Regions from separate parts of the Homo sapiens genome. Here region 2 is linked to region 1. The links come from fine-mapping of genetic effects on gene expression. A gene starts in region 1. The other region holds a variant in brackets. All regions are shown on one strand. Distances are between the middles of the regions.

Region 1 (2,912 bases):
AGTCCACAAAGCCCTTCTGTGAATCAGTCTTTTACAAAGGGAGATATGTACAGCAGTAACTATTGACTAAGACAGAAGGCAGCAAGTTCATTATGAGAAGGACAGACAGAAATGCAGACGGGTCTGGAAAGCGGACCCCTATGGAACACATGGAACTTGAGGTAGCCCTTGACTTCTGGGGGCATTTTACCCAATGGAGCTTGGCGGAGCGTTGATGAAGGAATGGAGTGAGCACACGCACAGAGGCAGGAGCACATTTTAAAACTGAGTTTCCACTGTGCCAGACCCTAGGTGGGTTAGGAGGTGGCAAAGGTAATGGGAGACATGGCTGCTGTGCTGTTCAGAGCTTTGGGAGCCTGCTGAGAAGTCTGGACTGTTCTGGGCAGACGAAGGGCAGCGTCAGGTCTGAGAAAAAAGGAATGCTCCGAGGTGAAGGCAGGGCCTCAAGGCAAATCTGGAGAGTATAAGAGACTAAAGGGAGCGATGGTAACACAGTATCGCACTCAGAGGTTACAGCAAACACAGGGACACAAACTGGAGGAGGACCGACCTGGAACTGCCTGACTTTGGCCAATGAGGCGGCACGATGGAGGGGCACAGAAGAGGACGGTTGCCAAAGATGACCAAGGTTTGGGGGCCGAGAAGTGGAGGCGGAGGAGGAGAGCAGTTTCACTAATACAGCTGGAGAAGTGAGGAGGCAGGGCTTGCTTGAAGGAAGCGCTGGACGCACAGCCTGCAGCGCAGGACAGAGAAGAGACAAAGAACTGGAAAGTGATAAAGTCGTGGGAGGAGGTGAGACTGGAGGGAGAGACGAAGAGGAGCGAGAACTAGCAGAGTCCATGAAGGCACTTTTTCAAAGTTAGGTGGTCACCAAAAAACAGGTAATCAATCCTGTCACCAGCCGCGGGGACAGCGAGGCCTTGGGCTTGGAGGGGGAGGATGCCGACGATGCCGACCGCGCATCAGATCTCGCCGGGAGGAGGGCGCGGGCGCTCCACTTGTTGCAAAGAACGCCGGGTTCCTCTGGGCCATTGGGCTGCCGCTCCGGCGGGGAGCGCGGAAGGCTGGGCCTCAGGTAGCTTCAATCATTCACCTGCTGGTTACGGGTCGCGGCGCCGGGGACCCTACTCCGGACCTCGGCCATGCAACCCGCAGCATACGGAGAACGCTGGGCGCCCGCTCCGCTGCCCCGCTTCCTTCCTGCCCCTGGGCCGCTCCTCTGCACCCCGGGAGCCCTCCCCTGACGCACCCGTCGGTCCCTCGGAAGAGCCCTCTGCCGCGCAGCCCCGACACCCCCCGCCCCGCATCCGCCCAGGCCCCCGGGACCCTGCTCCTCCGCCTCAAACTTCCCTTCCGTCTCTCACAACCTCGTACCTCCTGGTAGGATGTGGAGCGCTCCTGCCGGATCATGGCACTGACCAGAGCTTCGGCACACCTGAGACCGCCCCAGCCCGCGGCGCACGGACGCAGCACTGCGGCCGCTGCACCTGGACCTACCGGCTCCGCGAGGCGAAACCGGTCCGGAGGGGCGTCCCAGAGACCAGGCGTGGCGATACTCGGCGCATGCGCCTGGCCGCTGCCGCCCAGGAGTCGCGAAAGTGTTGATGGGAAATGTAGTTCTGGGCGGGGGCGCCCCTCACACCAGCTCTCACCCCTGTGGCGGAGGCCTGCATGTGACCCTGGGCCAGCTAAGCTGGTCCTTAGACGCGTGCCTCTGCGTCTCTCACTTCCTCTCTTTGTTGGAGGGGGAGGGACGGAGAAGAGGAGTGGAAAGTGGAACAAAGTCAGATGAGTAGGAGCCCCTAATCTATAATTGCAAGAGGAAGCTTGGCCTGGCGGTTTAAAACGGTAATAAATGTCTGGAGAGCACTTTGTATGTTAGTTACAAAGCGCTCTCACTCACATTATGCCGTTGATTCTGCAAGGAACCCTGTAAGAAGGACATTTTTCTCCCTAATTTACAAATGAGGAAACTGAGGTACTTTGTTTCAGAAAGGATGCGGGTGGAGCGGTAATCAAATGAAGATTATTTCATCCAGGGGTAGACTGCGGAGCCCATGTTCTCTCCATTATTCCAGGGGCAGGAGTACCCCTAGGTTCTTGTCCTGGCTCTGACCCTCCCCTTTAGGTCTTGCAATGCTCTGAGCCCTCCTCTCCTCGCCTTAGAATGCAACTGCTAAACCCTGCCCTGCCTGACAAGGCCTATGAAAGCAGAAAGGAAGGATCGTGCAGAGAAAGCCTAAAGCCGCTGTTCAGCCACAGAAGAAGCCTCAAGCGCTAGATGTGGCGTCAAATCTGGTGTTGGCCCTGTGGCAGGGTGGACCTGAAGACCACATCTTCCTCTCCTCCCACTGCCTGAAACAGCTGTTGTGTGAGGGCCCTCGGCTCCTCAGTGGTGAAGCAGATAGAGGCTGCTTGTTGTGCCTTGGTGAATGCTGCTCTGTGTCCCTTGCAGCTGCAGCTTGGTAACCCCTCCACTCAGGCCACTGGGAGCCTCTTCTCTCCTCAGTGATAAGCAGAATAGTGCCAGCCACATCAAAGAACCCTGGACCTCCTGGAGCATTAGCAATGGGAGGTCCCCATCACCTCTCCTGACCACTCACCCCTATCCTAGGCCCTCTGCTCTTAAATCTGTTATATGGGACAATATATATAGTGCCTAACACATTGTAGGCACTCGACAAATGTTTGTTAAATTTATGAATGGAACACTGATTCCAGCCATTTCATTTAACAGTTGCTTACCAAAACAAATTAACAATAGCAGACCACTAATTAAATTCCTTACTGTGTTAATACAATGGTACTTGATAGAACAAGTTCACACCATCATAGAATATTAGAGCTGGAAGGAACCAGAGAATTCTATTCCAACCCTGTCATTCCTCTCTAGTCTTTGTTGGTGTGACCAA
Region 2 (2,912 bases), 140 kb after region 1:
ATGCCCCACCCCTCTCCGCACTCTCTCCCAGAGCACAAGGCCAATCTGTTCTCTGAAGTTCCCTGATCTGCCTAAAGTTTGGGTCCACCAAAGAAGAAAACAATTACCTGTGGTCCCTTCCCTGAGTTTTCAGTAACTGAACTCATATCACAGGAAGAAAAACTGAAGTTTGTCAACAAATTTGGACAGACTTTTGTCACAAACCATTGTCTGCTCTGCGGGCCCAACAGACTTTGTCTCAGGCCATTGTATGTTCCTCACGCCTACTGAATTCCCCAAAATTCATTTACTACTACCCTAAAATCATCCACACTTCCCCATCTCCCTTTCTCCTAAGAAGAAGGGTATATACAAGCATCTGTGTCCCATTGCATGGTGGCGTAATCACTCTATGATAGTTCCCCTATGCATGCTAATAAGTTTGTATGCTTTTTCTCCCATTAATCTGCCTTTTGTAAGTTGATTTTCTCCTTATGAAAAGAGAAATATTAAGCTAATTGGGCTTACTTGGTATATTAAATTATACGGGAAGCATTGCCAAATAAGAAGTAAGGCTAAACCTTCTTTGGATTATATTTGTATGAATGTGTTATTAACATATTTCAGAAATTGTGTGAAATTCATAGAAATTTGATAGTTCTGGAATAACATTATCAGTCATAATTCTGGTTACTATCTTAAAATGTTGCATGCAACAGAAATAACCAAATTCCCTTCTCAATTGTGTTATCATCGTAATGAACTCTCATCAGATCTTTAACTATGAACATTTGAAGTCTTGTTATTCTCAGCTGGCAATTGTTTACTGTGGTCTATCTTTTTTCTTTCTCCCCTGTTTCCTTATGTCCTAATTACTTCCTTTTCCTTGCAGGAAAATCCATGGAACCATAATCTATGGATGGCTTTAGGTAAGGCTTATGCTCTAGCAAAAAACCAGAGCAACTGTTAGGCTTATGAAGATAAGCTAGTTTCCACTGAGGAATGATTCCAATGGGGTTCTTGAGGGCTCACTCTTGGCAGTAGTAGTGTATCAGTCATATGGAATTTGAAACCAATCCATAAATTGGGGAAAAATCCTGGACTTTGTGGCTAACCAGAACTCCCAGAGGTTCAAACGGGCAGAAGTCATCCTTTGAGAAAGGTGGATGATGGCATATATACTTTTTTTTTTTTTTTCTGAGATGGAGTCACCCAGGCTGGAGTACAGTGGGGCAATCTCGGCTCACTGCAACCTCTGCCTCCTGGGTTTAAGCAATTCTCTGCCTCAGCCTCCCGACTAGCTGGGATTACAGGCGCGTGCCATCACGCCCGGCTAATTTTTGTATTTTTAGTAGAGA[C/T]GGGGTTTCATCATTTCGGCCAGGCTGGTCTTGAAGTCCTGACCTCGTGATCCACCCGCCTTGGCCTCCCAAAATGCTGGGATTACAGGCATGAGCCACTGCGCCCAGACAGCATATGTTTTAAGAAAAAACATTTACTGGAACATCATGTGGACTTAGAGCTTCTTTTCGCCCAAATTGGAGGCTTGTATATAGTATTGACAAAACTGAATATTGTGCCTGTCTGTCCCCTAATTTTGTTACTAGAGGAAGCTTAACTAAAAACAAAGGTGAAACTGCTGTTTCTTTAGACACTGCCATCAAATACATGAAGGAAATTTCTTAAGGGAAAGGAACACATGCTGTGTCCATGGCAGCAGCTAACAGTTGGTTTGCAGGAATCCTGAGTGGTGGATGGCAAGCTTGGCTTTTCCAGGGTTTTCTAATCTATGTTCTTCTAGTGGGTCTCCAGGTTACTAAGGCTTGTGTTATCAAGTTAATGACAAAATTGGATACTTATTTAAATCAGATCATTCTATAGCAAGCTGTGGTCCTTAATTTCCATCACACTTTGAATAAGGATTATGGCCAAATGGACTCAAATACTGTTAAGCTGCCTATATTACTTACCTAAGCTTTGACTTGTTTGATTTGGATCAATTTGGTCCCTCAGGGCTCCTGTTAAGGAATACGCTTCATTTTTTGGTGTTATCCTAAATACCAAATCCTATCTAACAGTCATCATGATAGTCCCCTGCTGTGCTGTATCCTCTCAAGTCTTAAATGTTAGTATGCAGCCATCCATTGAGCACTGAATGATCTCACTTTGACTAAATCAGCAAGAACATAATTATTCGACTGATGTGATAACTTGTGAATTCCATATTGAGACCAAGTAAGTCCATTTATGATGGTGACAGACAGTGGCATGAATCAGACATGTTTTTAGAAAGTTTTATTAATTTTATTTAAAATTTTATTTTCAGGAATGGGATTGACTGCAAAGGAGCACAAGGGAACTTCCTGGGGTGATGGAAATGTTTTGTCTTGATTGTGGTAATGATTACATGACTATGTTTGTCAAAATTCCAGAACTTTATACCTAAAAGGGTGAATTTTACTGCATGTAAATTATACCTAAACACATGACTTTTTAAAAAGGCCTGAAATCTTAACTACTCAGCTAAAAATAAAATAAAATAAAATAAACAATTTAGGTGCAAAACAAGTTTTGTTTTTGGGACTGACAGAGGTCCAGTGATTGTATTTATTTATAAAGCTAATAATCCAATCCAATATATCAATATCAATACTTTTAAATAGGATATAAAAAGTTATGAGATTTTTTAAAATAAGGATTTAGACTGCAAAATATTATGACTACAATGTTCCTGAAGCAACACTATCTTAAAAAATATCTCAAACAGAAAATAACACTCTAATGCTCTCAATCATTGCAATAATTGAAACTTCCAGAATATTACCATAATGCTGCTTATATTACATACCCAAAGCCCTGTATTTAATAGTTAAAAACAAAGAATTATTTAATACCAGCTAGCTTCATTACTTGATAGATTAACTTGCTTGACAGAT

The links. PIP is the estimated chance that this variant, and not a neighbour inherited with it, causes the effect. A credible set is the group of variants that fine-mapping cannot tell apart.
Region 2: its variant is the best candidate, but not a certain one, in a credible set for the expression of PACC1 in whole blood (INTERVAL, PIP 0.72).

The regions. Positions count from the first base shown.
Region 1 is chr1:212,413,348-212,416,259 of GRCh38, forward strand. PACC1 (proton activated chloride channel 1) reads right to left here and starts at 1,539. Exons shown (of 8, transcript NM_018252.3): 1 at 1,375-1,539. The coding sequence starts at 1,410. RefSeq lists a silencer at 1,191-1,250.
Region 2 is chr1:212,553,541-212,556,452 of GRCh38, forward strand. It overlaps LINC01740 (long intergenic non-protein coding RNA 1740), which reads left to right. Exons shown (of 3, transcript NR_125985.1): 2 at 872-908; 3 at 2,303-2,526. Among named protein-coding and RNA genes, the nearest start is that of LINC01740, 9.3 kb to the left of the region's middle. The variant C/T (reference allele first, on the strand shown) is at 1,338.